4 linked regions of the Homo sapiens genome follow. The protein of the gene in region 2 interacts with the protein of the main gene of each other region in a biochemical or structural test. Each region holds a gene or a part of one and is shown on either strand. Other genes may lie near its edges. The genes, in order: PRKG1, SELL, PODXL2 and CFH.

Evidence for each region.
Region 1: of the proteins of SELL (region 2) and PRKG1, one has a biochemical effect on the other in vitro, tested with the Homo sapiens proteins (one study listed by BioGRID).
Region 3: the proteins of SELL (region 2) and PODXL2 form a complex in vitro, tested with the Homo sapiens proteins (one study listed by BioGRID).
Region 4: the proteins of SELL (region 2) and CFH form a complex in vitro, tested with the Homo sapiens proteins (one study listed by BioGRID).

Annotation. Positions count from the first base shown.
Region 1 is NC_000010.11:51,070,211-51,078,233, forward strand, and holds the start of PRKG1 (cGMP-dependent protein kinase 1), read left to right. Parts: upstream 1-4,276; 5' UTR 4,277-4,380; coding exon 4,381-4,691; exon of another isoform or gene 4,692-4,902; coding exon of another isoform or gene 4,903-4,910; intron 4,911-8,023. UniProt on the Homo sapiens protein: Serine/threonine protein kinase that acts as a key mediator of the nitric oxide (NO)/cGMP signaling pathway. GMP binding activates PRKG1, which phosphorylates serines and threonines on many cellular proteins.
Region 2 is NC_000001.11:169,694,132-169,702,142, forward strand, and holds part of SELL (L-selectin precursor), read right to left. Parts: intron 7,558-8,011; coding exon 7,429-7,557; intron 2,423-7,428; coding exon 2,404-2,422; intron 1-2,403. UniProt on the Homo sapiens protein: Calcium-dependent lectin that mediates cell adhesion by binding to glycoproteins on neighboring cells. Mediates the adherence of lymphocytes to endothelial cells of high endothelial venules in peripheral lymph nodes.
Region 3 is NC_000003.12:127,659,576-127,667,586, reverse strand, and holds part of PODXL2 (podocalyxin-like protein 2 precursor), read right to left. Parts: intron 7,210-8,011; coding exon 6,428-7,209; intron 5,351-6,427; coding exon 5,276-5,350; intron 1-5,275. UniProt on the Homo sapiens protein: Acts as a ligand for vascular selectins. Mediates rapid rolling of leukocytes over vascular surfaces through high affinity divalent cation-dependent interactions with E-, P- and L-selectins.
Region 4 is NC_000001.11:196,646,744-196,655,387, reverse strand, and holds the start of CFH (complement factor H isoform a precursor), read right to left. Parts: upstream 3,346-8,644; 5' UTR 3,271-3,345; coding exon 3,213-3,270; intron 1-3,212. UniProt on the Homo sapiens protein: Glycoprotein that plays an essential role in maintaining a well-balanced immune response by modulating complement activation.

The sequences.
Region 1 (8,023 bases), on a different chromosome or scaffold from region 2:
TGTGACTCCATTTTCTCTAATATTAATAGAATATTAATAATATTGAACTTATAGGGTTGTATGAACAATACCTATCATGCATTAAGAAGTCAAGGAAGTTAGTTAATTTTTTGTGATCTTGATTATGATTAGCAACTTAGAACAGACCGTCATGTCTGCCAGTAATAGCTTTAAAATCTAGATTCCTAGGAGGACTTGTTACTTTTAGCAATCTTCTGCCAGAGGAAGCTTCTGTCTCCTGAAAGGCTCAGCTATATATTTGTTTGTTTATTTTTTCCCATTCAAGATATACACATGAAATGACAGAAGAAAATTTCAAAACTTAAGATTCTTCCAGGAAATACAGTGTCAGTGGAATGGATAAGTGGATAAAATTAGCACAGTTCTTTTGGGCTAATTATGTTTTTAGTGAAGGATGACAAATTCTACAGATTTATTTTTGAATAGCCAGTATTATAATAAAGCTACTTTATTGGAATAGCTCATTAAATGATTCTGAGAATCCATTAAGGAAGGCATGTCAGTTTTTATTCTCAATTATGAGGATTGGGTGCAAGACTAAAGAGCATGTTGGAGTTCAACAGGCCACAGTTTGGTCTGGCTACCAGTAGAACTTTGCTTCTATTAAAGTTATGAAAAAGGAAGACTGCTGAAAAACAGGTTGTGAGTTGTTTCTGGAATTCTAGAGTATGAAGTCAGTTCCTTCAAAATTGCATTGTTCTAACTGTTAGCATCTAATGTCAAAGCTTCATCTCAGATAGGCAGTGGGGCAGGGCTCAGATCAAGCCATTCTCCTCTACTCTATCCCTGAAGGAATCTGAGGTAGACACTTCCTAATTAGCAGAAAGTAGACTTGTGCCTGATCTTTGATCTTGTAATTTAGCCAATTAAGTTTACTACATGACACTTAGTAAAGATAATTTGTCTGTTAAGACGTAATTGCAGGACTTTGATTTTTCACATAGGGTTTATTTCCAGCATTTACTAAGTACAACGCAGAAGATGTTTAAGAAAATATTGGAAACACTCAAAAGGTTGAGATGGAAACCTGGTCGCTCAAGATCTAAACAGCTGGTCAAAAGCATCATTGAAAAACATACTTAAAATATTTATTTTTACTTTAAAAATGAAAGAGAAAAGGCTAGAATCCTGGATTTTGCATATGAAATTATAAAGCATTTAAGGGGAAGTCAATTTAAAAAAATAACACAGCCTGAGATAACTAAATATATTCTATTCCTTGAACACCTTTTAAAGTCAATTGTAAAAGTCATGTCTTTTCAGCTTTTTACTCTATTTGTGTTTGTTATAACAGATTCCTGACTCTCAATATCAGATTCATCCTGGAACAGATTTTATATCATGAGATGTAAATTTAAAATGAAAATGTAATGTGTATACATCCTATAGTTGCATTTAGATATGCCAGCTTAAATACTGATAAGTATTTACATAATTTAGTGTAAAAAAACTCACTTTTTTCCAAAATGCCTAAATATTTTTGGTTTTTTTATTTTTGGGGAAAGTGTTTTAGTTTTTATTTTCCTTTGTACATGTAGACAGACTTTCTACAAATGAGGAAGAACCTTCTCTCTTTGTGCTGCTCAAAAACATTAAGTAACCCCATTTAAACCCTAAATAAACTCTAAAACATCAATGAAAAACGTATTTAAAATATTTGTTTTCACTTTAAAAATGAACGAGATGGCTGGGCACAGTGGCTAATGCCTATAATCCCAGCATTTTTGGAGGCCAAGGCGGGCAGATCACGAGATCAAGAGATCGAGAACATCCTGGCCAACATGGTGAACCCCGTCTCTACTAAAAATACAAAAACTAGCCGGCGTGGTGGCGGGTGCCTGTAGTCCCAGCTACTCCGGAGGCTGAGGCAGGAGAATCACTTGAATCCAGGAGGCGGAGGTTGCAGGGAGCTGAGATTGCGCCACTGCACTTCAGCCTGGGTGACCAGAGCAAAACTCCGTCTCAAAAACAAACACACAAACAAACAAAAAAAAAACAAAGAGAAAATCCTGGAATTCTGAACCCAGCTTAGCAGTTGTCTAATTATGTCCTCTATACATTGTATCTGGTATATTTTTAGACATAAACTCATGGCTTCATGAACCCCAATAATAGATCTATAGGAAAAAGTCATTTTGTATTCAACATTTTCCCATGGAAATAAAGAATTCCCACAGGTTAAATAAGAATTTGGCCTTTTGCCCAGAAGAAGGAAATTTTCATGGAAGCTTTTTTAGAATACAGTGAGTTATACAAAGTCACAGTACTTCTGCTTGGTTTACTTTTAATTAAAACAACAGTAATTCAGAGCTATTATTATTTTCAATATTTGTAAGTTGCTCATTTCTTCATTGCAAAAGAAAATGTTTTGAGAATGATCCATTTTATATATCACATTTAGAAATAAATGCACTTCTGAAAGTCTGTGTTGGAAAGCAGAAAAATGAAGTGTCTTGTGTAATCTGCATTAAGAGAATTACTAGATCATAATCTACATAAAAGAATATTTAGGACTATATATTTTGTCATTTAGTCCTCTAATTAAAAACAAGGACACTTTAAATGAACAAGCTTGTTAAGATACCTTGACCTCCCTCCCTCCTTTCCTCCCTTCCTCTGTCTCTAGCTTAAATACAAAAAGTTGTGTATTCAAAAGCAACAGTGTGCAAGTTATTTTGATACTATTCTTTGCTAAGTTTAGAATTGCATTGCAATTCAATTTTATTTTCTGTCCACTTTGTTTTAGTGTTAAGGAATAACCAAATAGAGCATTGAGGATTATAATATTGAGTGCCCAAGAATAGTAATCAAAAATCTGCCAATAAAGATGCTATAAAATTGGATGAGTTCGTAATGTCTTAAGCAAATATTAGGGATTTAGGTACGTATTAGGCAGATATTTGGGGATTCTAAACATGTGTTCCCATGATGGGAGTGTAACACTTGGATAGAAAGGAAGTTACCTAATTGTGATCATTTTGGGGAATATTGAGTGGGCAGGGATGAGGGTGGGAGTGGGTAGAGGTGGGGGTGACTGCAGTATAGTGTACAATTCACTGCAGCCTGCGTGGTCTCCCTCGCTCCTTCACGATTTTCCCTCTTCTTCAAAGTTTGTGTCAGGATGTCTTCCTGGCCATTCAAGTGGAAAGATACATTCCTAACAGCTTGGTTGTGAGGAAAGTAATATTTTTAAAGGTATGATTCAGTTTCAAGATGAAATTTTTGGAGCTCGGGAATGATTTTTAACCCCCACCCTCTCCCCGCCAAATTCAGCAAATGGAAGAAGCAAGGCCCATCCGAGAACTATTCCCAGGCACCAGCTCAAGGCGGAGGGCTCATGGGGAAGCTGAGTGACCTGCTAGGGCCCAAATCCGTTTTTGGCCTTTGCCCTAAAACAGTTCCCCGATGAGAGTTTGGAAGGGGCAGAAAGGAAAGTAACTATCTGGAGCAGGCGAAGAGTAGCAACGCCTCGGGTGCTAAAATCGGAAACCCCACCCCCTACCCCACAACCCTTTCCCAAAGGTAGTAGGCTGAAAGGGGGAATTCCTCGCGGGCGCCGACTCGCTCGCATCTCCTGAGAGGCAAGTTTCTTCGCAAGCGTTAGCCACCTGTGTGAGGCGCTCTGGGTGGGAAAGGTGGCGTGGGAGAAGCGACAGCTCGGCCACACCGCTCGGGAGCTTTCCTTAGTGAGGCCGGCCGTCAAAATACCTCCAGAACTCAGAGCTTTGATGATGCAGAGTCCCCTATGCCTCGTACGTCGCTAGGATCGTAGCTCAACATTCTCCAGGCTGGTCTGCTCTGGAGTCAGCTGAGGCCTCCCGAGTTTGCCCGGGGTCCTCCCTGTCCCCTCCCTCCCACCTCCCCACCCCCGAAGTAGCGCTCCCGCCTCGCTCCACCCGCACACCCCCGGCGCGCCTCGGAGGCTTATCAGGCTCCCCGCACGCCCCGCAAGCTTCCTTGGGCGCCCGGCGCGAGGGACTCTGAGAGCCCAGCCGCTGCCTCGGAGCCCCCATTCACGTCCCCTCCTCCCGCTCCCCCGCCACCGCGCCTCCGACTCTTCTCCCCCGCGCCGCGGCGCCCACCGCGTCTCAGGTTTAATCCCGGGTTGGACCTGCTGGTTTGCTCTCCCCGCTCTGAGCCTCACAGCCAGCCCAGAGAAGTGGAATCTGCACTGAAACTCTGGGTGGCTGGAGCCGGCGGACTGGGCATGCTCAGAAGCCAGGGCTGGCTTTGGTCTCAAGTAGGAAGCTTTGGCACTCGGGAGGCAGCGGCGACTTTGGGGAAAGTTGATCGGAGAGGGGAGGAAGCCTCAAGACGCGGAGCAGCGGCAGGAAGGAGCCCCCGGCAGCCCGGAGGAGCATGGGCACCTTGCGGGATTTACAGTACGCGCTCCAGGAGAAGATCGAGGAGCTGAGGCAGCGGGATGCTCTCATCGACGAGCTGGAGCTGGAGTTGGATCAGAAGGACGAACTGATCCAGAAGCTGCAGAACGAGCTGGACAAGTACCGCTCGGTGATCCGACCAGCCACCCAGCAGGCGCAGAAGCAGAGCGCGAGCACCTTGCAGGGCGAGCCGCGCACCAAGCGGCAGGCGATCTCCGCCGAGCCCACCGCCTTCGACATCCAGGATCTCAGCCATGTGACCCTGCCCTTCTACCCCAAGAGCCCACAGTAAGCAGGGGTGACGCGCCGGGTCCATGTGGCGCCCTGGCGATGGGGAGCTGCGGGTCTCTGTATTGTCTGTCGGCCCCCGCCCCTCCCGCTTGCCATGTCTGTCCTCATCCTCAGAAATGTTTCATTTTAACGGGCACTTCTTGCGGGGCTGTGCACGTTTCTCAGAGCCAGACTCACTGCACATACGTTGCCTTCGTGTCTTTGTCAGATGTCAAGGTATTATTTTTAAATATACATATACATTCGTATAAGCCACCTAGTGTACGTAGAGTTTGAACACGTCCCAGGTGTGTGTCCGACCGTGTGTGTGAGTGTGAGAGAAGAAATAAAAAGCCCCCGTCTCCCAAAAGCCCTGGCAAACCAGCCCAGCTGGAAAATCCTAAATGCAGGCTCATCAGACTTGAAATGAAATGCGTCTGATCACCCATACTTTCTATGCTTTTGTGGCTCTCCCGGATTTCTCTACCTGCTGGCGCTTCACGCTGGTACCCTTCAAACCTGACGTTCTTGTCATCATCAAAGTGTGAAACATAAGCAAATAGGCATAGAAAAAGGAAGAATTTTTGATTTCCTGAATTGGATGACATTTACAATCCATAAATGGAAGACTAGTCTGTTGATTTTGAAGAAATATTTTTTCATAACATATGAGGGAGAAGATTGCTTATTTTACTTAAGAAACGTGCATAATGTTACTAATGGAGCATCTCCATCTCCCAAGAGGTGGTTGCTTGTTTCCAGGGTCAGATACAGATAAGCACACTTATCTTATTTAAAACGTGGACCCATTGTTTGCCTTACTCTTGGCTTCTAATGCAACCACTCTGGCATTGTTCTAGCCTTTTAGGGAACTGTGCAATTCTGATGTTAGTGGGCTTCATAACTTGGATGGGAAAAATTTAATGAAACTTGTTATACAACACTCAACTCAGAGTTCATATGGAGAGTAAAGCGACAGGAACATGAGGTTAACAGAATGTGGGAGAGCACCCAAAAGAACGGCATTTTAAATTAATAGATAATAACGTAATTGATAAAACCAAGGATATTGCTGCTTACTCTACTACTAACGAAATCACATTGGCTGGATGGCACGTGTTACGTAATAATGCAAGGTCCATCGAAACCCTTCACTTCATAAATACAACAAGTTAATATAAGGAGAAAGTAAATATTTGATTATCTCTATTTGTATTTATTGGATGTTTTTTGGGGAGAATCACAGCATGTACCAATTACTACTTTTGAAAACTTAGAGTTATACCTATACATGTTGATTCCCATGGAACATTTGCTGTTCATGCAGGCTTAGTTTAGGGAGGAGTTTGTATTCTGCGAGGGAGTTGGAAAGAGACAATAAGGATAAACATTTCTGAGATTCTGACCTTACCAAATTGCCCTAATAGTTCAGCAGACTTAGATCTGCCTTAGAAACCTGAGTGATCTGAATAAACTTCAACTTTCTCTGGTAAATTAATTTGCAATCCTGACATGCCTGACTGTTTTAGCTAACGAGGTACATGACCATCTCTCCTGGGCCAAGTTTTGCATAATGAAAAAATAACTCAAAGACAGCTCTCTGCATCTTTAAACATTTCATAGGATCTCATTTTTGTATCCGCAGGACTTTTGAGTGACACAGAGCAAACTCTGCTTTTACAAAAAGACCACTTTAATAGGTTTCATAGTGAAGCATGTTGAAGCCAGCTGATAACTCCAGTTACACATTCCATCAGAGATTTACAAGATTCTAGGCAGTAGGGAATGAGCTATACAATGTGATAAGTTTAAAAGCCTCTTTGTACATGACTTGTAGAATATCTAGATTGAAAAACAAACAAACGAAAAAGGTCCAGAGTGGAAAATAAAGCTGGTGTGGCAAATAATTTACAGCATCCCATTATAATAACATTTTATCTATCATTATAATAACATTTTATCTATCAAACAACACTGTGTGTCCTGATACTGATTTCTTACTAATAACTTGTATTTTAAAGGACTCAGCTCTTAAGGTATTGCCATGATGCTTTGGGTGACTCTGAAGTATTTTATTGAGGAAAATGATAGAATGCCTTCCAAGCTTAAATAATTTTGGAAAAACATCTGTTCTTTTTTCACACTTACATAAAGAAAACTAGAAAAAAATTGGCTTGAGTAGTAGAAAGTGTACCTTTCTTAGGGAAAAAAGAAGTACATTGTATGCAAAATGAATAAATCTTATGTTGTTTGAATGGTTGTACAAGGTAGCTCCACAAAGAGTTAAGAAAACCTGCCAAACCAAAGAAGACTTGTTTGCCTTTCAATGTATTTCACTATGAATAATTTGATTACACGGACTTACTGGCAACAAGTGTTTGTGTCTTTGTATTTCATCTTTACTACATCTTAAATGTAGCCATCTTTCTTAAACATACATATAGATTATTGTGAGTTTCCAGTTAAAATGAAACTATCTAAATAGACACATTAATTTCCAGTTTACGTTCATGCTAGTTTTTGATTCTCTTTTTTTTAGATGTAGGTAACTGCCCCGCTAATGTTCTGTTCATTTATCTGATATATGCAAATATATCTGTTTAGTTTTTACTTACTAAGGTTGCCTTCTGAGGATTATAATTTTTTTTAGTTCTGGTTTCTTGGTAAATTTGGTCATTTAAAAATAGTATAAAATGTAAATTAACTTAATAACTTGAATCATTTTAACATTTTTGGCTTGGAATTTTTCCTTTAATGTGGGAATTGGAGGGAAGGTTCTGTCAGATTCCAGCACTGAGCCAGGACACTCCTGCTATAACTATGAGGTAGGAGGAGGGTTTTTATTGGTCTCTTTCACAATCTGTATAGATACAATACTTATGTGAAGGAAAGAACTGATGTAGCAAATTGGAATCTGTATTCCACTGCTACCAAATAACTCCTTGAGAATGTAAAACTACTAAACTATATTTGGAAATAAACTGAGCAAATAAACCCTTAAAATGAAAAACAAAACCTAAGCATTCATTATGTGAGATCAGATAGCCTGTTGATTGCCTATATAGAATAGTTCTTATGGACTTAAGTAATTTTATTTCATGAAGTTTCATTCCTGAAATTGATTCTATATCATGTTAGAACATTCAGTCTCTGAAATTTTGATCTAAACCCCTTATCTTTTGAAAATATTCCCAAATCTTTTCCATTTTCATGTCACAGGGTTTCAGTCATTTCAGTTGGATTATATAGACTTGAGTTCCTAAAAGTGGTTAGTGTCTTTGTATTTTTGTAAGCTGTTGCTTTCACTCCATGTTCTATTTTGTTTCCTTTCTTTTTCCTTTGTTGTTGTT
Region 2 (8,011 bases):
GTATTTTTCTGATTTTTTTCTTTCTATATTCCTGTCTTAACTCCCCAGCTAGGTAATAATTTTCCTGAAATCAGGGACCAGGCTGACTCCTCTTGCTGTCTCAAGAAAGCTTAGCAGTTTCCAACACAAAAATGTTCAATAAACAACTATTAATTGACTGATTATAAAAAATCAGTGAACCATTAAACTTAATATAGCAATTTGCTTAGCATGGTAATTAGCTTTTTGCTAATATTCTTCCAGCCAGTCTCTCCTCCTGTGCCTCAAGGACATCTTAAAAAAAAAAAATCTAGTTGATCTGCTTCCATCTAGTGGCAATTAAAACAGGTGGTTCCGGTAGCCAGAAAACAGCTCTGGGTAGATTGTGCCAGAAAATACTTTCACTCAGTAGGTGCGAGTTTGAAAGAAATCTTCACATCTGTGGGTTTCCTGCCACAGACATAGGGAGACCAGCCCAGAGAAAGAAGCCTTTCCTCACTAGACTCCATTTGCACTAGTAAAGAGAAGACAGAGTAATTAAAAAGAATAAAAAGAACCTCCACTGATCGTACATCCTCATCCAGTTACCCCTGCCCCACTTCTCCTTCACAGCCAAACATTTTAAAAGAGATGACTGCTTGTTCTGTCTCTACTTTCTCATCCTCAGTAATGCTCAATGCTTGGCCGTCTGACCTCTGTCTTGATGTCTGCACTGCAAATAGTCTCCCCACTGACACCCTTGTTGCATCCAGGGGATACTTACTGGTTCTCTTGGCAATGTTTGAAACCGTTCCCCTTTCTTTGTTTCCTTGGCATTCATTACCCCACACTCTTTCTCCTCTTCCTTCTCCCTGCCTGGCAACATCTTTTCATTTCTCTTTCCCTTAGGTGACTTATTAGATAATGATGTTCCTCTGGCTCCCATACTCTCTCCCAGGTCCTCTTCCATTCTTAAAGCACTCACACCCTCCCTGGATGATAGTACCCACTCCTGAGATGGCAGTTACCTCCTGAAATGTGAGGGACCCAAATCCACTTCTCCTGCCATAGCCTCTGTGCTTTGGATAGGTCCAATGAGCCACAGTGAATGATGTGCATACACCCAAAGCTCAGTACAAAACTGAACCCATGATCTTTACCTCCAAAACCTCTCATTCTTTTATGTTCCCTTCTCAGAAGTAAACAGGACTACCATCCGCCAGTTTCCAGGTGAGAAAGATGATAATTTGATTCTTCTCTCTCACTTTTAGCCAATTAACAGACACATTCAGTTAATATCACCTCCTCTTATTTCATGAACCCATTCTTACTACTAGTTCCCTAGACAGGCGCCATCGGTTTTAATCTAATAACTGCAAATGCCTCCAAAACAAGTCTCTTTGAATCCAGGCTCACCTGTCTCCCACACTTGCCATACTGCTCTGCAGGGTGACCTTATAAGATGCCAGAGGTAAGGCTACTCACTGTTTAAACCCCTTTAGTGATATCCCAAAAGACCTCAAGATAAAGCCCATATCACATGGCTTATACATTAGTTTATGATCTGGCTTCTGGTGCCTCATTTTTCCCCACTTTTTCCTTTGCATTCTAAGCAATGGCCCATACTAAGTTTGTGATTGGTAGGATGGTTGCCCAAACCAGCATCCAATCCCTTCAGAAATCATCTCACTTCATTTCTAGCATTTTAAAGGAAGCTCAGTTGTCCAGCTGGGTACTGAATATGTCACCAAAGTCCTCCTTTCATAGTTTATTTTACTTAAACTCTCCTTCCTAAAATTCCAGAGCAAGTCACTAAACCCTAGATACTGAGAAATATTTTTCCATCTTCATTTCTGCCAGGTGGGCCATCAACTTTCACATGTCTGCATCTCCTCCCACTGTGCTATTTCTCCAGTAGAAGAAATTTGAGCTTCAAGACCAAACTGAAAAATACTTGCCTCCTTGGGGAAGCTGTAGGTAGAATTCATGCTCCCTATCTTTCCCACATTTCTGAAGGACAATGCCTGTTAGAGCAATTGAATGCAAATAGTCAATTGAATAAGCATTTATTCATTTCTCAATAAGTGCTTGTTCAATTGAATATTTCTTAAATAATATATTTAAGAACAAGAAGAACACACCACAATGTTTTTAACCCTCAGAAAAAATTCTGAGGTAATCAGAAAAATCTCCCTTTACATAAACTGCCCTTTTCTAATAGGGATTACTTGTTCGTTCATTCATTCATTCAGCTCCACTAGCACCAAAAAGCACAGCTCTGAAAGGAAGCTAGTAGATTTATCACCTTATCTGGTCATTTGGATGAGGACCCCAGGTAAATAAACTACTATGGGGTTAATGTGTCTAGCTAGAGCAGGAAGTAACTTAAGGAAGTAGAGAATGAATCAGCAGATGTGGAAACTCCTCGCCACTAATAAAACTTACCTTCTCTTGGATTTCTTGCCTGAAAATAGAAAATAGAGAAAAGGCATTAGCAAAAATTAGACAATTTAAAGTTTTTCAAGTAAGGGAGAAGGAAGACTCCCACTCTCAAAACTGTCTTTTGAAGTATATTAGGTATTTGTTAGGTGGACCCTATCTGTGTCAAAGGAGATTTGAGGAACTGGCTTAATAAACAGTGGTAGACACTAATACAGAACAGACATGTTGATGCAGATGCCTCCTGAGGTTCCATTCCATTCTCCGTGCTACTCAAGAAGACAGAATTGCTAAATTGCCTGGTGGCAAGACCCAATATGTCCATTCAAGTGTTTATCCCTTCCCAATCTGCCATCTCATCCTACCTGCAGATTCTTCCCTTGAGGGACAGCTGCTAATACTGTAAAACTATGTGCCATTACAGCTCACAGCATCATCTCTATGAGAATCCACAAGAGAATTTCACTTTGGTCTTGTTGGTAGGAATTGTGCAGCCTCATCTGAGTAACTAATGTGTTTTTATCTTACAAACACAAGGAATATCACATGGTTCTCCTTTGACTGGCTGTAAGGAAACTCAGAGCTAGATCTGAGACCCTCTCCTACCAAGTATATAAAACTTTGTGACATACATTTTTGTGCCATAACTTCAACCTTGGTTCCAAATGATTTTTGTACCCTAAGTTTAAATTTGGCTTTCTTTTTTTTTTTTTTGTACTCAATAAAACATCAAGCTCATTTATTATTGCGAAGAGCGAAACAACAAAGCTTCCACAGCGTGGAAGGGGACCCGAGTGGGTTGCCCAAATTGGCTTCTTTTTCTTACTTTTTAATTAATTTTAATTTGCTATACTGAACACATTTTGTACTGTTCTCACATTCTTTTTGAAAAAAGCAGAATATAAATAAGTAGATAACTTAAAAAAAACTCTTTGAGCAGAAAGAATCATTTGGGAGGCAATATATTTCAGTGGCTGTAAAGTGGCATTCTAGAATCATCCTACCCAGGTGAAAGCCCTATTTTGCCACCTGTAGTGTAGTGTGTATTTGAACAGCTACTTTCTTTTCTAAACTACAATTTCTTCATCTGTTAAAGAGGCATAATAATTGTATCATCCTCATTGGGTTGATAAAATAAAATATTTCCAAGTATTTAGTTCAGGTCCTAGCACGTAGACAGTGTTGCATTACTGTTTTAATCCTTTAAAGTATTAAAGACTACTATTTGAAATCTTTTCTTCTAAAATTCAGCCTGCTGATGACCAAGTGCACTTGAGCAGGGGGAATCAAATCTGAATTAATTTCAGATTCTGGTTAGCTTCACATAAATATTTTTTTTAGGGATGATGAACCTAACAGCAATAGATGAGTAAGAATCTGTTCCTACTGAGAGAGTTTCATTTTGAAGAAAAAGGAACTAAGGGGGCATGTGTTCAGTTTCATGCCCTGGTCTAACCCTGTGTGTTGGTTCTGGTGGGAAATTCTTCCAACCGAGGAAAAAACCAGTTCACAAATCTGAAGACCAGTGATTTTAGAAGATGTATCTGGACTGGAGTCTAATCTCTGACTCTGGGTCCTGCTGATATGGTATTTTTGAGATTTGGCCTAAAACATCATTGCCCTGGTTTCCTTATTTACCAAACAGGGCCAATGGTAGTGACTAATCAGAAAATGATAATGCCTGGTGCACAAAATGTGTCTAGATGAGCCCATGCACAAGGACACATGTTTCTGGAACTGTTCCTTATTCCTTTCCTAAAAGAAAGGAGGGAAAGTCTCCATACTAAGACTACTAGGGCAGGGGACAAAGTGCTAGAGTCAGAAGATTCATCTGAGGACAGAAGAATAGGGGTGAAGGCTCTAGTCACTTCATTGGCTACCATGCTCTAAATAGTTACCTGTGCCCTTTTTCTAACTATTAGAACCCAAAAAGCCTATAAATTCTCTCTCTCTCTCTCTCTCTCTCTGTGTATATATATACATATACACACACACATAGACACACACACACACCTAAACACACACATAGAGATTTATGACTTTTTACTTTTATCCTTGTAAATGCCATTAACTATATTTTGTCTTAGATTTAGCCTGGGAATGTAGCCATTATTTCTACCATTGCCTCCATAGGAAAAATACTCTTCATGTTTTAAAGGACCAACCTACAACTAAAATCTTTGGAAAGCAGAATCATTTGTAAGTTGGTGAAAATGGAAGATGTTGTTTTATAAATGAAGACTTTTTTTTTTTTTTTTTTTGAGACAGGGCCTCACTCTGTTGTGGAGTGCAGTGGTGCTGTCATGGCTTACTGCAGCCTTGACCTCCTGGGTTCAAGTGATCCTCCCACCTCAGTCTCCTGGGTAGCTGGGACTACATGTGCATGCTACCATGCCTGACTAATTTTTTGTATTTTTGTAGAGATGTGGTTTCGCCATGTTGCCCAGGCTGGTCTTGAACTCGTGGGCTCAAGTAATCCTCCTGCCTCAGCCTCCAAAAGTGCTGGGATTAGAGGTGACAGCCAAGGTGCCTGGCCCACAGATGAAGACTATTTAATGTTATCTTAAAGATACCCTAAGCTTCCTACCAAGCCAGTGATCTTTTGGGGCTTCTGTTTTCTTTGTTGGCATAACTGTAACTAGCCTAACTGCCCGTTATCTGTTTCCTGTTTGCCCCACACTGATTCCCACAGCAGTTTTCAAGTTATCGGTTTGAGATCTTGTACAGAAATGACTCCAAGGTAAAAAATTTAAAAACAACCCCTCTAATTTTTTTACCCTTGCTTATAAAACAGCCTTAGCCAGCTAACCCCTCACTACATGCAAATGAGTTTGATTCTATTCTTTTGATTCTACAAACACTTATTAAAAGATTTTAGAATTCGGAAATAAATAGCTTCCTTATTAAGGTGACTTACAGCCCCAAAGTCCTTAAAATTATTTAGACAATAGCCACCTTATCCCAGGGGGCAGTGTGTAATAACCCACCCTGTTCTCTATCCGTCAGTTCTGCCATCATCGCCCAAGGTAGGAAGAAAGACAGGACAACCGGGGTCAAGATTTGAAGTCTCAATGGAAAGAATAATCAGTGGTTGGAGAAAACTGTCATTCTTCTTTTGCCTTAATGCAGTACTTGATACTTATACTTAGTACTGTATAGTACTTAGTACTGTATAATACTATAAGATAGTGAGATTCAATCAGCACAGAATTTCTAATAGCAAGGGCAGAGACATTTTAACTGCTCAGTGCTCTCAGGTTATACATAGCTAATGAAGTTCTTGCATATCAACAATCCCCACCCCCCTCACACACTTTGTCTTTCTGGATTGGTTAGAAAACTTACCTAGCGCCCACTATTCTCAAATTTAAATGAAAGATAAGATCAGAGTGGCACGCAATTAGGGACTGATAAATAATATTTTTGTAATTGCCAGTGTAAATGGACAGGGGGCAACCTTTACATACCATATTCAGTGAACAGAATACGTACTAACTAATTTGATGGAAGGAAAATTAAAATGACAATCAACTGAGCCCACAGAAAGGCAACACAGAGCAGTTGGTTAGCAATTGTTTCGAGATCATCCCTGAACTTGAAACAGGTATATCTTTTTTTTTTTTTTTTTTGAGACAGAGTCTCACTCTGTCACCAGGCTGGAGTGCAATGGTGCGGTCTCAGCTCACTGCAACCTCCGCCTCCCGGGTTCAAGTGATTCTTCTGTCTCAGCCTCCCGAGTAGCTGGGATTACAGGTGCCCGCCACCACGCCTGGCTAATTTTTGTATTTTTAGTAGAGACAGGGTTTCACCATGTTGGCCAGGCTGGTCTTGAACTGCTGAGCTCATGATCCGCCCGCCTCGGCCTCCCAAAGTGCTGGGATTACAGGCATGAGCCACCACACCTGGCCAAAACAGGTATATCTTAAAAGCTGCCCAATGTCCATGAATGTTACAGCCTTGAATGGTTCTTCCAGGTGAGTTTGGCCAAATGTGGCACCATACACCCAAGGCCTGCTGCAGGCTAGTGGGTTGCTCACACTTTAAAGCTGAGACACACTCATGCCTTAAGGTAAAGGGAGTGATAATCTGGGCAGCAGATGTTAACTTCTCAAGGCAGTCCTCCTTCTCTTTTCCTCTCCAGTGACGGATGGTTGGAAAGCATATATGGTGCATTTGGTTAGAGCTGTGGCCTTGGTGAATAGATACTTGGGAGAATACATGGGAATTTCTCCCAGGGTTAATGCAATGCCCATGTGTTGGGAACCAGGTGACTCTTGAAGAGGTCAGGTATTTGGGAGCAGTGCCTTGAAACCTTAGTGGACATTAGACCCACTTCCTAGTGGAATTGTAGCATTGAAATCCAAGGCATGTAGGCTCTTAGAGGACAGAGATAGTGTGTCATTTTTTCAGAATTAATTAAGAGCAGGCCAGGCGTGGTGGCTCACACCTGTAATCCAAGCCCTTTGGGAGGCCAAGGCAGGCAGATCACGAGGTCAGGAGATCGAGACCACTCTGGCTAACACAGTGAAACCCCGTGTCTACTAAAAATACAAAAAATTAGCTGGGCATGGTGGCACGCTCCTGTAGTCCCAGCTACTTGGGAGGCTGAGGTGGGAGAATAGCTTGAACCCAGAAGGCGGAGGTTGCAGTGAGCTGAAATTGCACCACTGCACTCTAGCCTGGTGACAGAGTGAGGCTCTGTCTCAAAAAAAAAAAAGTATTAAAGAATTACATAAGAGCAAAGAACCATTAGAATATCTCACTTAGTTGTTATCAGCCTAGCAAGCTGCCTTGAAGGTAATAGACATTTTTAAAAGTTTATCAGATGAAAAGCGAAAATCAGCCAACCTGTTTTAATGAAGGTGTGTCCTGGGCTGATTTACATGTCTCCAGGGACTGATGGCTCTAGAATGTAAAGCTTGGCATCCTGCTTGTGTTGAATCTATCACATTTAATTTCCTGTGGGTTTCTTTTTTTTTTCTTTTTCACTTTAAAGTTGTGTTCTTTTCATGTGAAGTTAAACTCACATACCTTTTTTTAATCTCCTTGCCAGCCAAATGATAAATGCCAACCCAGAGAATGCAGTAACCATGACTGCCACTGGAATGAAGAGGGGGTTATAATCACCCTCCTTAATCATTGAGAAACTTTTGTCCAATTCTGAAAGAGAAATCAGTAAGGCACATAGCATGAGACCACCAGCATTATTTCCTTAGTCTATCTCATGATATTTGACTTTTTTCCTCCTTACATCTCCCAGTAGTAGCCCATTTGATGCCATTTGACAGATGAGGAAACTGGCATGGGAAGGCCCCTGATGAGTCTACAGCATAGGCAAAGACTGGACCAGCCTTGCTAGTCTAATGCCTACAGAATCTCAATGCCCAGATTTGTGGTTCATAGAGTTCCTGAAAATGCACCTAAAAATGTTGGCAAGAATGGTCATCGTTGTATTTAGCTCCATGGACTTGTTCAATGACTGGAACTCTGAAACACAGAGAAGAGCTAAAAGCCTAATACAACTTCAGGAAAAATAAAAGCCAATGATCTGAACTGGATAATTCACCAGTCAAAGGAAATCATTAATGCTTTTACTTTAAAGCAGTTGTGCAAA
Region 3 (8,011 bases), on a different chromosome or scaffold from region 2:
TCCTGGTTCACATCCTGCCATTTGTCCCTGCCCAGCCCCATCTAGGAAGATACCCTCCTTTGGCCCTGTGGCCACTCCTCACTCCGGCTCCTCCCCAGCAGCCTTCTCCCTCCTGAACATGCACAGTCACACATTCCCTGCTCGTAGCCTCCACAGCCTGCTGCAGATACCCCTCTCCCAGGTGCTCAGCTCTCTCACAGTGCCCTGCTATGCAGCTGAGAGCCAGCGCCACTGGGAGGCACGAGCATCTCACCAGGCCAGCCCTGCAGGATCCCCTGCCACTCCAAATCTCCCTTCTGCTAGAGCCCAGGCTAATGAGCTGTTCCGTAGTTGTCATGCCAACCTAAAGGCTACCAGAGGGATTGAAATGCTGGGCCTCTGTTCTTTGTTACCATGGCAAATGCCAGGCTCAGGCTCAAGCCTTGGCACTCACTGGTCTAATAGCCAGCCAACTGAGTTTTAAATGTGGGAGAAGATGGGTACCTGGAGATGGCCATAGAGCAGATGGAAACCCCTAGTTCTGTGATGGTTCTTACTTTATTCACTGATTGAGTATGGGGGGAGAAGGAGTGCATGCCCGCCCCTGCCAGAGCAAGGGTCCATGCACCATGACCCACAGACCCCTGGTTACAAAACAAGCACTCTCCTGCCACATGAAGTGCCTGCCCTCTGTGCTGTGGCTCTGTGCTCTGCTGTGTTTGCACACCCCATGTTTTCCTGGGTACATATGTCTGCCTGGCTTAAGCCCAGAGACCCACAATGTCAGTGTGGGAGGATCTGATGACTGCAGATTTCATACCACTTATTATGTAGACAGGAAAACTGAATGTCCGTGGCAAGGGGGAAAAGCCCTGACTTTGGAATCAAATAAATCTGGGTTCTGGCCAGGTGCACTGGTTCATGTAATCCCAACATTTGGGAGGCCAAGGGAGGTGGATCACTTGGGCCCAGGAGTTCCAACTCCTGCACAGACAACACGGCAAACTCCGTCTCTACAAAAAATGCAAAAAAATTAACCAAGTATGGTGGTGCACATCTGTGGTCCCAGCTCCTTGGGAGGCTGAGGTGGGAGGATCACGTGAGCCTGGGCAGTTGAGGCTGCAGTAAGCTGACATTGTGCCACTGTACTCCAGCCTGGGTGACAAAAATAAATAAATACATTGGTTCAAATCTTGCTTCTGCCATTTGTCAGCTCTCTGTGATGTCAGCAAAAAAAAAAAAAAAGAAGTACCTCTCTGAGCCTCAGTTTCCCTATTTAAAAACATGGGCAATGGTCCTGACACCCTACCTTACTGTGAATAAGTAAAGTACTTATTCAATCACAGGTGCTGGGACAACTGGATATCCCATGGAAAACAAAAAAAGTTCCTTGATTCATACCTGACATCATTTACCAAAACTAATTCCAGATGGACTACAGATCTAAAGTTTGTAGCAGTAAGCACAGGAGGACATCATCCAGTGGTGATGGATTAGAATTGGAAATACTGAATTTGTACTTTTAATATGTGTACATGCATTATACATGATATATGTATATCTATGCCCTAGAGAGAGACAGAAATAAAGATCCATATTGCTCAGTTCTTCTAGAAGGGCCTAGAAGCAGTGACACCCCAGTAGCCATGAGCACACCTGGGGCCCAGATCTTAGTTTCTAAATACCTTTCCTCATTAAAAGGAAGCAGGACTCCTTGCAGAAATGGCTAAATTGGGGGCTGGGGCAAGGAAAGTCCCATGCAGCCTGGAACATCTTGTAAGCACGTGTGTGGCATGCACTGAGAAACTCTGCAGCCTCAGGCAAAGGACTGGCGCCTCATCACTGTGTCAACGCTGCTTCTTTATCCAGATCTTGATGATCCAGCCCTTTGCATGGAAGCTCTATTTCAGGATTTTCACTAAAGGATGATCCACATATTTCTCCTCCTTGTCCTTATCCTCTAGCACTTCTCTCTGTTGTGCTAGACAAAGGATCAGATCCTTGCATCTCTACAGTAAGGATTTCTTTTGCCTTCTAGAACTCAAAAACACCACCTCTGGATTTCCTGTTTTATCTTTCTTCCTCCTCTCATGTTTCCTTCTTAGACTTCTTTCCAGTTTCTTCTATGTTACCTGTGACATCTAGGTAAAATAGAAGCCACTGAGCCTGCATCACTTTCTCTAGATCTTGAGGGCTGAACTCCTGGAACTCCTGTAGTTCCATCGTGTAAAACTTTCCACAAGAGACTGCCAGCACTTTTCTCCCTGTCTTTTTCTGAATATGTAGTCTCTGTATAGCCCATCAGTTTTTATGCACATTTATTCCTTTCATTTTTCAAATAAGTCAAGGTCATTAAATGCAAAGAAAGGCCGAGGAACTATTCCAGATTAAAGGAGACTAAAGAGACAAGACAAATAATGTGATGCATGACCATGGATTATATCCCGGCATGGGAGGGAAGAAGGCTATAAAGGACATTATTGGAACCATGGTGAAATTGAAATAAGGTAGGTAATCAGATAATAGTTTTGTAGCAGTGCTAATTCCTGATTTTGACCATTCCATTGTGGTTATCTAAAAGAATATTCTTGTTCTGAGGAAACACAAACTAATGTATTTGGGGGTAGGGGCAAAAGGAAATAATGTCTTCAACTTTTTCTCAAATGGTTTGAAAAAATTCTAACAAGTGGTGAATCTGGCAAAGAAACTAATAAGTATGTTGATAAAATATAGTAAGCATTGACTGTTAATAATAATGACTAATGCTCAACATCACCAATCATCAGGGAAAATGCAAATCAAAACCACAATGAGACCATTTAGGTTGGTGCAAAGGTAATTGCGGGTTTTGTCATTACTTTCAATGGCAAAAACCGCAATTACTTTTGCACCAACCAAATACCTCACTTCTCTCAGGATGGCCACTGTTTAAAAAAACAGAAAAGAACAAGTGTTTATGAGGATGTGGAAACACTGGAACCCTAGTGCTGGCGAAAATGTAAAATGGTATACTCATAGCGAAAAACAGTATGGAGATTCCTCAAAAAAATTTAAAATAGAATTACCATATGATCCAGCAACCCCACTTCTGGGTATATACCCAAAATAATTAAAAACAGAGTCTTGAAGATATATTTGCACAGCACATTCCCAGCAGCACTATTCACAATAGCCAAAAGATGGAAGCAATGCAAGTGTCCATGGACAGCTGCATGGATAAATAACATGTGGTATATACATACAATGGAATATTTTTCAGCCTTAAAAAAAAAAAAAGAAATTTCTGCCACATGCTACCAAATGGATGAACCCTGAGGACATTATGCTGAGTGAAATGAACCAGATGTAAAAATGACAAATGTTGTCTAATTCCACTTCTATTAGGTATCCAGAGTAGTCCCATTCATAGAAACCAAAAGGAGAATGGTGGGTGCAAGGAGAATGGTGGGTGCCGGGACTGGGGAACAGGTAGTCATTTAATGGGTACAGAGTTTCAGCTTTGAAAATGAAAAAGTTCTGGGGCTCTGTTCCACAACAATGTGCATATACTTAACACAACTGAACTTATATTTACAAAGGGTGAAATGGAAAATTTTATGTTTTTTACTACAATAAAAAAAATCTACCATAAAAAATAATGATGACTAATTGAGTGGAGGTCACATATTAGAATAACACAGAAGACAAAAACAGGGAAAACAGAATAAAAGCATCTTAATATCTATGTATTGATTGGCAAAAAGATACGAACTTTAGGCTGTATTGTTCAAGTATGCACACCAAAAGTTCAAGGGTCCCAAGTACCCATCTGTGGTCTTCATGTACCATTTCCCAATGAAGGGAATGAGGGCTCCATGTCTGGGGGAGGAAGGTGAGCCTGGAATGTCTTATTATGCCAGAAAGCAAGGAAGCAATCAGACACTTAATAGATTGGTCAAAAGGACTCAGAGGCCAACTCAAAGAGGCTTTCCCTGGCCAAAGATGAGGTATTGAGCATCAGTAAAAATAATAACTGCAATGGATGAAAACACACATCACTTAGGTGAAGATCCATCAGTATAGTGATGGTGGGGGAAACCAACCTTGCTGGGGACTTTTGGATTCAACGCATGCATGTCCCTTCAGTCTTGCCCAGGCCCACTAACAAGAGTAAAGAATTTAAGGCCTAAAACCAGAGACAAAGCAAAACAGAAGAGGAGACAAGAGCAACAAAATCTAGACACTGGAAGCAGATGGTGAGTTAGAATTTCCTAATTTAGCAAACTCTAAAGAGCCAAACCCTAAGCCAAAATGAGGAAAGCTGAGAAGCAATCAGATGCATACTGATTGACACTCCCCAGATGCCCCGGAATAGGGGCCCTGGTTACCTTTGGAAGAGGGGATGAAAATGCTACTAAAAATATGAGCTGGTCGAAAGTTTGCTTAAGAAACGGCTGGGTCCCTAGTTCTTCCCGCAGTGCTGCACAGCCAAGAAATGTCCCTTCTCCCTGGCAGAAGACTGGAAGTTTATTCTTTAAAAAAGATAAAACAGAGGGTCTCTGACCTAGAGAGCATCAGACACAAGTGTGTGTTTTGGGGAGGGAGAAGGTCACTCTGCAAACAGGAAGAGACAGTACATGAATATTGATATTTATGGATACATATTTATAATACTGAAACACCCAGCCCTCTCTCTCCACCCCAGCTCCCAGAACACTGACAACCAACTTGTTATACTTCGAACAGAACAGAAGTTCCCTTTTCAAAGACTCTAATCACCTCAGGAGGAAGGACCTAACAATGCTGCCATTGCAAATTTCTAAGTGATACGGCCCAGCCAGACCACTCTCATGAGAAGCCATAGCTGACAACCCTAGCACTATGCTCAAAGCTTCCAGCCACTTTTTCGATAGAGAGAGCTATGAACAAACTCCACCAGACATGTGTGGAGAGCATGTATATATATGAAAAGGCTGAGACCCAAAACGGAGAAAAGCAACCTATACAGGAAGAAAACAACTCTAAAAAAGACAGAAAGGTTTCAATATCACGGGAGAGGTAAGATGGTGCACACATGAACAAAGTATTCATTTAAATTAAAAAGAGAGGGAAGCAAGAACCAAAGAGCCTTTGGACATTTTAAAATACGAAAGCTCTCTGTGTGTAATGTTGATGGCTGCTGGTATATCCCTGGGCCACCAACTGAAGGACTAAGCCTTCTCCCACGCACTGCTTGTCCCCCCAGCCTGCCCTCTGCCCCACCCTGTCCACTGCCTGCAGCCTTTCCCTGCGGTTCGGAGCCTGGCTGGGCACTCACACAGTCTATGTTCTCTGTCATGTTCAGAATGATGTAGTTTTTCCCAGCCAGATTGCTCCAGTCCTTGCAGATCACCTGTGCGAGGAGACAGAAAGAAGGGCGACAGTTACGAAGGCATAGGAAAGGGACAGGGGAGAGAGCCCCGGTCGGAGGCCTTTTGGGAAGCTGGAAGGTGGAGGCCAGTGGAGGCGTATTACAGCGAGGGGGCTGCTGACAGCCTCTGTGAGGCACCATGCCAAGGAGTACAAACTCGAATGTCTTTGGGGACCAAGCAGGGAATGTATTGAGTGAGAGGAGGAGGCCAGGCATTATTCCCAGGAAGTAGGGGACTATATCAAAGGGGCCAGGCTGCAGAGAGCTTGCCCCACATGCTGGCTTTCAAGGGCAAGTTTATTGTTAATATTCTGGGGCTCCTTTCTTTTCCTTGCGGTGTCAGTGGGTGTGAACACTGACTTGTGCCTGCTATGCACATGGGTGTCGGTGGGGAGGAGGAGGGTGGTGAGATGGGATGGGGAAAGCACAGGTCAGCCACTAGCTCTAGCTGCTGGTAGAATCAGTGCAGAAGTCTAAGTGTGGGCTGGGTGCGGTAGCTAATGCCTGTAATCCCAGCACTTCAGGAGGCCATAGCGGGTGGATCACTTGAAGTCAGGAGTTCCCGACCAGCCTGGCCAACATGGTGAAACCCTGTCTCCACTAAAAATACAAAAATTAGCCAGGCATGGTGGCACATGCCTGTAATCCCAGCTACTCAGGGGGCTGAGGTATGAGAATTGCTTGAACCTGGGCGGTGGAGGTTGCAGTGAACCGAGATCATGCCCACTTCACTCCAGCCTGGGCGACAGAGTGAGACTCCATCTCGGGAAAAAAAAAAAACAAAAGATGTCTAAGGGTGGCAATGGTAACACATGAACAAATGAAACCCAGGCCAGGCCACCAAGTTTCTCCAAAGGCCTTTGCACAGAAGTGTGGGGAGAACACCCATTGTTGGCCCTGAGGTTTGCATCCCCACAAGTTCCATGGGGTTCTACGTGCTGTGGAAAGGGCCTCCCTCCTCAACCTGGCAGATCCTGCCCCCATGCCACACTAGCCCTGGGGATGGCCAGGCTCTGTGAAGAAGGTACAGGGTGGTGGCCCGCATGCCCCTCACTTTACCTGCGTAGAATCCCAGGGTATCCTGGATTGAGCTTCAGCTGCCTGCCCTTCTAGGAGCTGCTGGTTGAGATCTTCTTGTCCCAAGGTAGCAGAGGAAGGTGTCAGTTCCATGTCTCCAGGGGCCAGTGGGGAAGAGGCTGAGGTTCTAGAGCCAAGGGGATCTTCATCTGGGTGCTCGGCCCCACTGGGAGCTGTGGTTTGAGGGAATGAAGGCAAGGCCGGCACCTCCTCGTGCTGGCCAGACAAACCAGCTGCTCCTGCAGTGGCTTCCTCGCTTGCTTCCTGAGGAGCCTCGAACTCTACCCCAAGCCCTGCAGCTGGCAGCACTGTGGCCTCTGCCTCTTGGCTGGTGGAGTCCTGGTCCCCCGGAGTCACTGTAGTTGGGGTGACTGAAGGCAGCAGCAAGCTGGGCCCCATGCTGCTCTCCACCTCCACACCTGATGAGGCCTGGTCCCCGGAGTCTTCATGCCTGCTTTTGGTGGCCCCTGGGGTCTGGCTGCTGCTGGTGAGAGAAAAGTCACGGACCTGAGGCTTGGCTTCTTCTTGGGATCCATTCACAGGGAGCAGCTCCTCCTCTTCCTCCTCCTCTTGTTTCTCTACCTCTTCCTTCTCCCTCTCCTCCTCTTCCTCTTCCTCTTCTTCCTCCTCTCTGGGAGGCATATGCCAGGGAGGCTCAACCAGATTCATCTTGGGCAAGGGAGAGGGGAGGTTTGGCAGCTCTTGAGCCTGGCTGGTGTCTTCAATGGAACCTGCCTTCTCAGTTAAGTCAGGAAAAACATAATCTAAGGACAGAGATGAAAAGTTCATTCACTTGTTTCATCATTCATTGCTTTACTCAGTATTTACTGGGCAGATGGCATAAAAGAACCACAATACACTGACAGGGCAGGGGTCATCAGGTCATGATGGAGAGGCCAGGGGAGCAGACTGTGGGAGGACACAGGGACAAGGCTAGTCACTGTTTCCTTTATGATGATAAAATAATACAAATTTATCACCAAAACTCAATGAACACAGGAATGTAGAAAGTTTTGTATATTGCATTCCTCCAAAAGAGCCATGAGTAGTTTGAGGTATATATTCTCCACTGTGTTTGTAATGTGCTTGCTTGTCCTCATCTGGGGATTTCACCAAGAAGATCCCACAACAACCCACTAGGAAGGGTCCCCCTACTCCTTTTCTAGTGAGTCGTTATAAGAGTCTTCTTGGTGGAGTCCCCGAAGGAGGTCTGAGAGCCCTCTCATCACTGGAGGAAGTGAGACCCCTCAATTATGACCATTGTTCCTCAACTGTGCTCTTTTTCTGTAATTTAGGCCCTGACAGGAAATGAAAAAGATGTAGGGAGAGCCAGAGAGAGGCCAGGGGCTGAGCCCAGAGTTTTCCAGGGCCTCCCAGAATGTTCAGGGTCACTGTTGGCAATGGGAGAGGGGTTTTTATTCTCCCTGCCATTCTTGGGAATTACATTTTGAAGCAGAGAAGTTAGGAGACTTCCTGGAGATCAGATTGTTTTCTGGCTTTTCAATGAACCCTAGGCCTCTTCCAAATAACTATGCATGAAAGTTATACAACAAGTTTTTTGGAAAT
Region 4 (8,644 bases), about 27 Mb from region 2:
AATTTAAAATAAGCAAAGCTTGCCTTGGCAGACGTCTCAGGCTCGTGCCATTTCTGTGGGCATTTTCTCTACCCCTTCTCTTATAGCACTCACTATAGCACTTCAACCAGCAGATCTGTCCTACCTGGGAAAACCCCATCTTCCAGAATCACTTTGTTCTATTCTTATCCTCATCAACATCCATTTCTACCCTCCCCCGCCCACTGAAATTGTTTCAGGGAAGTTGTCAGATGATAATAATTCAAAGTAAATTATGAATAATACTAAATTTAACTATCCTAAAATATGTATTCAGTGTATTTGTCATTCCATGTAAATGACAGATTGGTTGAAATTATAGTAATATTAATATCAACACGTAAAGTATTTTAGGAGGAGATGAGATATTGAAGCCAATTGGGCCATCGCACAATTTAAATCACACCATATAGATAAATACACATACTACTATCTCTGAAAATATGGGGGTTTGGGGGAGCAAAGGGGAATTCTTATTTATCACACTGAAATTCAAACATACAATTTAGGATTTTAGACCACTATTCTCCTTTCTCTGACTGTAATGGAATCCATCAATCTCTGATCTATAAAGTCTTCTGGGACCTGAAATAACGTTTCTGCACTCTAAATCTCCAGGATTAAAAAACATGTCTCCCAAACAACACAGCCAGTATTTACTTGAACATGTTTCAGTAGAGTTTTAATTTATTCACTTTAATCATCTTGGAATTTCTGGGCTGTGGCCTAATTTCATATAGTACACAATTGTTAGACCCTAAATCTAAAAAATCTGCTTGGTCATAATATATTCAAAACCTTGGTCATACTATATTTCAAAAAGGTGAAATTAGGTGGTACGATTGAGAAACTGTTATTTTAAACTTTGTCCTGTAAATCTGACCCAATTCTTAGTAGCCTGCAGTGACCCCCTGAGCCAGACTGTTAAAACAAGGAGGCAATTAACGTTCCTACACAATTGGAAATGTTATTGTAGACAATATATTGCATTAGAAAGGTTCTATGTAGTACCCAATATATTAAAAAAAGAAAACAAATAGAAAGCTGAAATTACAAATTATTCCTGCTGGCTATAATTCTTTCTTAGTAATGAATAGTGTTTTTTTTGAAGAAAGTTCACTCTTAACAGAGCAGAAGTAATGCTAAAATGTTATGCTGTTGAATAAAGCAGATTGTGATAGTATTCAAACTATCTTCTCAATTTGGTATTCAGTATTCAATGTGGAAAATATAAACAGAAGCAAATATTGAAATATATGTGAGTATTTTTCATGATCAAAGCTACTCTGTTAAGTAAAAATTTTTTAGATATGGTAGATTAATAGAACTGATGGACATCTCGAACTAGTTTAGTTTCAGAGAGTATTTGGGAAACAAGGAATAAATTAGGAGTCTGATATCCACTGAAAATTCATGTAGTTTTTCTCCATTGGCTTTTGCATTACATGTGCTTTTATGAAAATTATGAGGCTGGCCTAAGCATTGCTTTAAATACAAAGTTGTGCTTTATCTTTTAGGAAATAATCAGATTTATATCATTTTCACCATAACATATATAGTGCCGATGTTCAATTCACCAGTAGAAACTGATACCACATTTAAACACACATTGATGAAAAATAAAATAAAAGTGAAACAAGTCAGCAATAATCAATTATGTAAATAAGATGTTTAAATCACTATTGTTTAATTATCACATATACTTTGATGTACTCTATTTTAATAATATTTCAAATTCAACTTTTTAATAACTTAAACTGTTTATTAAACTTGCCATTGATTCTTGATTTTAAAGATTAGAAATAAAACAAATCTCCCTTATATGACAAATGGTATCTATGTAAAACTGGAGCAAACAGTATGTAGGTATGAAACGTTAGAAACATTCCCATAAATTTAGTAAGAAAAGACAGAAATATTTACACAAAGAAACAGAAAAAGATGTCTTTTACAATAGGTAATATTGACATTGTTCTGGAACTGTTTGTAAATACAAAAAGGTTTCATTTTAAAATACTAATTATAATATTTATATGTACAAGGAAATAATTGTTTTCTTCATTTAAAAAGTGGCTACATATAAAGTTTACAAGCCAAAGAACAAGCAATAACATTAGAAAATATAACTGAAAATAATTCAACCTTTCAAAAGGTATTAAACATATTTGAATATTTTTTAAATTACCAAAGTGTATAACTATAAGAATATATCTGCTTTTATTTTCTAGATTGGAAGACTGAAACAGAGATTTGTATTATTTGCTAATATTCTTCAGTTCCTAGAGGCTATGTAATGGTCACTCAATCAAAATTTCTTTACTAAGTGAAAAGATTTTAGAAATTATGAATAATATGTAATTCATTCAGTTTAAAAATGTTTACCAAATATCTATCACATAACTGGTTACCTATCAAAAACTAGGAAAGCAAACCTCCTCCAAGAATAAGCTTTTTAATCTATCAAGAAGCAGTGATATAATTAAATTTTATTATGAATCCAGAAATTGTCTTACTGAGGTCAGAAAAAAACTCCTACATTCATATTCACTACTCCAAAAGACTGCTCTTCAAGAATATATGTTATATACAACTACAGGAAAAAAATCTCTATTGAACAACTTAACTGTTACAAATATTGTATATTCAATTGGGTTTCAAATTTATATAATATTTTTATTCTGATAATACAAGTAATACTTGTCTACAAGAATTCTAAGGTCATGACAATATCAGTTGTAAATGATAAATGAATTTTTATTTAGGAAGAGTTAAAATCATATTTGAAATAAATCTAATCATTATGATTTGATGGCTTTTATTGACTATGTATATTCACATCCTTCTTAATGCTTTCACATAATACATTTTGGTTATACTCCTAAGCAAAAAAGTAAATTACATTTTATGATAATTACAAGGGAAATGATTATTCCAGATCATAGTTTTTCAGAAATGTTTATTAAAACATTTTATTCTATTTTATATTAAATATAATTATGATGAATATTTAGATATACCATTCAAATAAGGTTCTTACATTTTTTAAACTCAACAATGTCAAAAGCCACTCAATTGTCAAGTTACAGAATACTTAAGCACATTTTCTAAATCAAATTTTTATTACTCCTGTGAAAAGCATCATTAGCAAATGTTTCATAATACAGTTTTCAGAAAAGAGTCTCTTTTAATCTTACCTTCTGCTACACAAATAGCCCATAACATAAGGCAAATAATCTTTGCTAGAAGTCTCATTTTTTGGATCTTTTAAGAGGACATTTACCAGCTAACTCTGTTCACAACGTCCAGTTCTCCTCTTCCAAGAATTGTGATTAGTGCAGGAAAGAACTTGCTGCAAAAGGAAGTTGAAACTAGATGCTCCGCCTATCAGAAACTTTTGCAAAGTAAATAAAAAATCAACCACAAGCCACAAGCCCAGAAATGCCAGAAGTTAAACCCAATTCTCACTGCACTCCCACTAAATGTTAATGCTGTGACCGGCTCTTGGACTTTTTCTTATTAAGCTAGGGAAATTCTCCGTTGGAAAATGTTCATGTTCTTGGTATGTGCAAATCAGCAGCTGGTGATATCCTCTGGATTTCATAAACCCTTCAATTATTCAAACTCTATTCGGGTCTATTGTGTATAAACCTCAGAACAGGAAATAAGAGAAACTTTAAAAGAAATCACATACAAAACTTTGGTTTAGGCAATGTTTTCACAATCAGCACCCAGACAATGTGTACAAACTTTGCCAAGAATGCAGTGCTTGATGAATTTGGGGGTCTGCTTTTCTAGCAATTTATGAAATTAGTTTTCTAAATACTTTTTGTATATGTGTATGAAGCAACTGGCTCACTCTCATTTGACGTAAATAGGTTTAATAATCCAAAAATCAACAAATTGAAATGCTGATTTTTAAAACTTTGTATTGTAGTGTAATATGTATAAGGAAAACATAAATCATATGCTGGATATTGAGAAGGTAAAGATACCTGTGAAACCACCACCAAGGTCAAAACACTGAACATTATTACATCCCAGAAAACCCCAGTACTCCTTTTCAGTCAATACGCCTCTCAACCCTCTCCCACACCCCCCACACACAGAGACCACGATTCTGATCTTCAAGAACATGGAATATATTTGTCTGGCTTTTGTACTTTGTATAATGAAAAAGAAGCAGTTTATTCTTATGTTTAGAGTTTTTCACCAAAAATTGTGTTTGGACCATTCAAACACATTGTTAGATGTAGTTACAGATAGTTCATTCTTATTGCGATTTAATACTCCACTTTTTGAATAGTTCACATTTTATTTATCTGTGTGCCTGTTAGTGAGCATTTGAGCAGATTTTAGTTTGGAGCTGGTATGAATAGTGCTGCTATGGGCCTTATATTATGAGGTTTTTGGTAAACACAATCCACATTTCTGGTAAGTGCATACTTGGTAGTGAAACACTGGGACATAATTTATGTTTAGGTGTAATGGATAAAATTAGACAATTTTCCAAATGGATTATAACACTTGACATCACTTGACATTTCTATCAGCAGTGTCCAAGTTGCTCCATACCCTCAGAGATACTTGGTAATTTTAATCCTTGTAATTTTAGCTTTTCTGGTAACACAAAGCAATAATTCTCCGTGGTTATAATATGAATTTTCCTGATGACTAATTGAAATGTGAGAGATCCCTGATTCCCCTTGAAGGACATGCAACAGGTGTGCGGCTTGCCAGTTAGGTCGCCCTGCAGCTCAAACCCCTTACGGGGAGGGGGAGCACACAGATGCACCGGTGCGGGAACCGGAGTGAGCGCTTTCGGGCTCTGGCCTCACAGCAGCATCTAGGGGTGGGTGTCTGCGATTTCCGAAGCCCAAGTGGGCGTATGTTACAGTGTGCTCCTTTAGCTTTGCCATCTGCAAATGGTTTATGTGTTAATCAGCTCAACAAACCCTCTTCCTTATCTCATGGGTAGTGGGACAGTGAAATAGCCCTCTATATCCCCAGCTGTTGCCCAGTGTCCCAAAAGAATCGGATCACACGGGGGCTCGAGGGATGAGGGCAACTTTTTATTGAGTGGTGGAGGTGGCTGTCAGCAAGATGGAGTGGGAAGGTGACCTTCGCCCAGTGTCAGGCCTCCCAGTGGCCAGACTCTTCTCCACCCGTCCCTGGCCAAACTCCCCTCGGAGTCCAGATGTCCCTCCTCTCTTTCTCTGCTGTGTCATTCTGCCATCGCAGGCCTGTTTGTCGGCTTGCCTCTCCGTCTCCTCACTTGTAGGTCTCTTCTGGAGCTTGGAGTTTGGGATTTATATGGGGGTACGACAGCGGGGCATGGCGGGCCAAAAGGCAACTTTTTGGGTGTGAAACCTGAAATGCCTGTCCTCATTTAGGGCCACAGGTCTTCAGGCTTGAGGGTGGGGCCTTTGCTTGGGGACCACCCTCTTCTACCCAGTATTTCCCTGTCTCCTGCCCTTAACATGAAGTTGAGAAACTTTCCTGTGGTAACTGGTCATTTAGATACCCTCTTTGGTAAAGGTTCTATTCAAATCCTTTGCATATTTTTTTCTTATTGAGTTGTTTGTCTTTGACTTATTGGAGTGTAGGAACTGTTTATATATAATTACTTATATATTCTAGATATGAAAATAATCTTATTAATATGTATTATAAATACCTTCTTCCAGTCTGTGGGTTTTCTTTCTATTCAGTATTACATGTCTTTTATAATAATAAAAAGAATTCCTTAATTTTAAAATAGAGCAAATTTTCAATTTTTTTCTATGACTAGTGCATTATGTGTCCTATTTAATGAAAGCTTGCCTAGTCCTAGAACACAATGCTTTTCTTCTAAAAGAATTATTTTATCTTTCACATTTAAGACCTTTAGAACAACTGTAATTGTCTTTTGTGTATAGCATAATAAAAAGCTCCAGATGCATTTTTAAAATAGAGATATCCAATTGTTATAGCATTATTCAACGAAAGTATCATTCTTTCCTCTGTACTGACATGCTTTCACCTTTGTCATAAGTCAGGTGCTGGATATGTGTGGGTCTATATCACCAAGCTCTTCTTACTGTAATAGTTTATTTTTAAAACTTTTCTAAAGTGTAAATTTCTGGGAACTTTGGCTTTCTAGTTATCTTTTAAATTGATTTCTTTTTTAATTTCATATTCTAAATAATTACACTGTTTTAAAATTTGATGAGTCTTTCTTTATGGCCCATTATAGTCAAAATTCTACCTATGTCAGTAGGTCAAGTTTGTAATTTGTTAAAATCTTTTGTATTTTTATTATGTTTTTGTCTGATTATTCCATCAGATATTGAAAGGGTGTATTACATCTCCCATTATAAATGTGGATTTGTGTATTTCCCTGTTTAATGCTGTGAATCTTTATATATTTTAGGGCTATGATGATGCTTGCATACGTATTTAGAATTGTGATATCCTTCTTTTGCATTGGTCATTTTCTCATATTAAATGGCCCACCCTAACTCTAATTTTGCTTCCAATGTGAATTTTACATTTTATTTTATTTTTATTTTTATTTTTGTAATAAAAATATAAGGAATAAGAGTTAGACTTAGTCATTTGTTCTGAGAAAAATAAGAAATAAAATAGCATGGATATATGAATAATCAAGCAAATTCGAATTCTGAACTATCATTCTGAAGTTTAATTTGATTTAACTGATAACACATATGTTGACATACTAGATCATTTAAACTTCTTCTTTATTCCTTCCTTAGTTTTATCTGTTTGAGTATGAATCCAAACATTTTACCTGGGGCTTAAATTTCCAATAGTGGTTTCTATTCTAATAGCAATATTATCACTTGGAGAGTATTCCAGAAACTTACTAAGATTAATATTATTGAGTGTTAATTATATACCAGGCACAGATCTAAGCACATTTATTCAATACTTAATGCAACACAATGAAATGGGAGACTATTACTCTTTCAAAGGTATAGATGACTGAACTGAACCACAGAACATTTTAGCAACTCCCTTAAGGTCACAAGACATTGCTGGAGCCAGGTATCAAATCCAGTGGTCTGTGTTTAAAATATGTGTTTAAAAATATAGTAAAATATTCACATATGTACTCTAGTGTATGCTTCACATTTATTTATTTTACAATTATGCATATACTGTAAAAGTATTGAAGGTACACACACACATATATATGTTTGTGGATAATTTAAAGTACATACAGGAATGATTTTGCTATACAAATCTTCACCTAATTTGCAATTGTTGAATGTAAAATGCCACTCTACTATCCAAGTAGAAATAATCCTCTTGAATTAATTTCAACAAATATCTTTCAGATGTATTATTTTTACTATTTTTTCTTTATCCTACCTTTTTTCAAAGACTGATGGCTAACGTCAATTGAGTGTTTTTGTTTCCCTTTTTTCATCAATACTTTTCAAAACTACAAAAGTCTATTATAAAGAAATTCAGAACATAAGAAAATTAGCAACATATTATGCCTTAAACTCATAAAATTATTATGTAGTATTAGATTACCATTAGAAAGACCAGATAGTAAATAGTTAACTATTAATACTAAGATTAAACATGAAATGGATCCAATTTATTTTCAATATTCATGTTGGCACATTCTCAGCAAATACATACTATGTATATTTGGACATTAAAAATTTAGAAGAGTAAGGATATAAATTTGTATTAGAGAAAAATCCATATTTAAAAAATTAGAAATAGTTAATATCTATGCTAAGTAACAAATGACTGTTATGATTAAAATTTTCGAAGGAAGTTTACAAGAAAGAGAAATTACTGAACACTGGTTTTGATCAGGGATGATTTTAAGAACACTTGGATATTACACTGTAGTTTAAGGGAAGAGTACCACTGAGACTGTGAAGAATAGGAAAGTGTGGGGACTAATCTAGAATTAATGAGAAGACTCACATTGGAGCAGTGGTTTTGCACAAGGAAATTGTGGAAGAAGTAAAAGGAGCTTTAAATGAGGAATGGTTTGAATTCCAGATCAAAAACTTGCAAATTATTTTACAGGCAATAAAGAATCTTTGATAGATCTAATTGAGGAAGAAATGTAAGTCATGCATTATTTAAGTAATGGTGCTTTGGCGGTTGTATTAAAATAGATGGAGGAAAAAGGACTCAGAGAAATGACAAATTAAATAAATTACTGAATGAATTCATAATACAACTATTACACAGCATCTCAATGTAAAGAAAAAGGGTAAAAACTAATATTTATAACAGAGCTTGATTTTTCTATGAAGCTAATGAAGTCTAAGCTTCAGGGCTCCTAATTTGAACAGACACCATCAAGGACCTGAGCTGGCCCTTAATAACGTTTCTGCATGGTCATCTATTTTTGTAAAAAATTGAAGAGAATTAATCTCTTAATTGCAAGAGAATGAACGGCTGTCTCTCTTATTCTATGCTGATTTCCCCTTCATTGCATTTCCACTGATTCAGTTGACATTACAGTTTCAGGCATTTGAAGGATGCAAGAAAAAGTTACACATAGAATGCTATTAGTTTGAGATTTATGTGGTATATTTTACAGTCTCAATTAAATATAATTTGATAACTGATGGTCCTCCAAGTGTAAGAATGG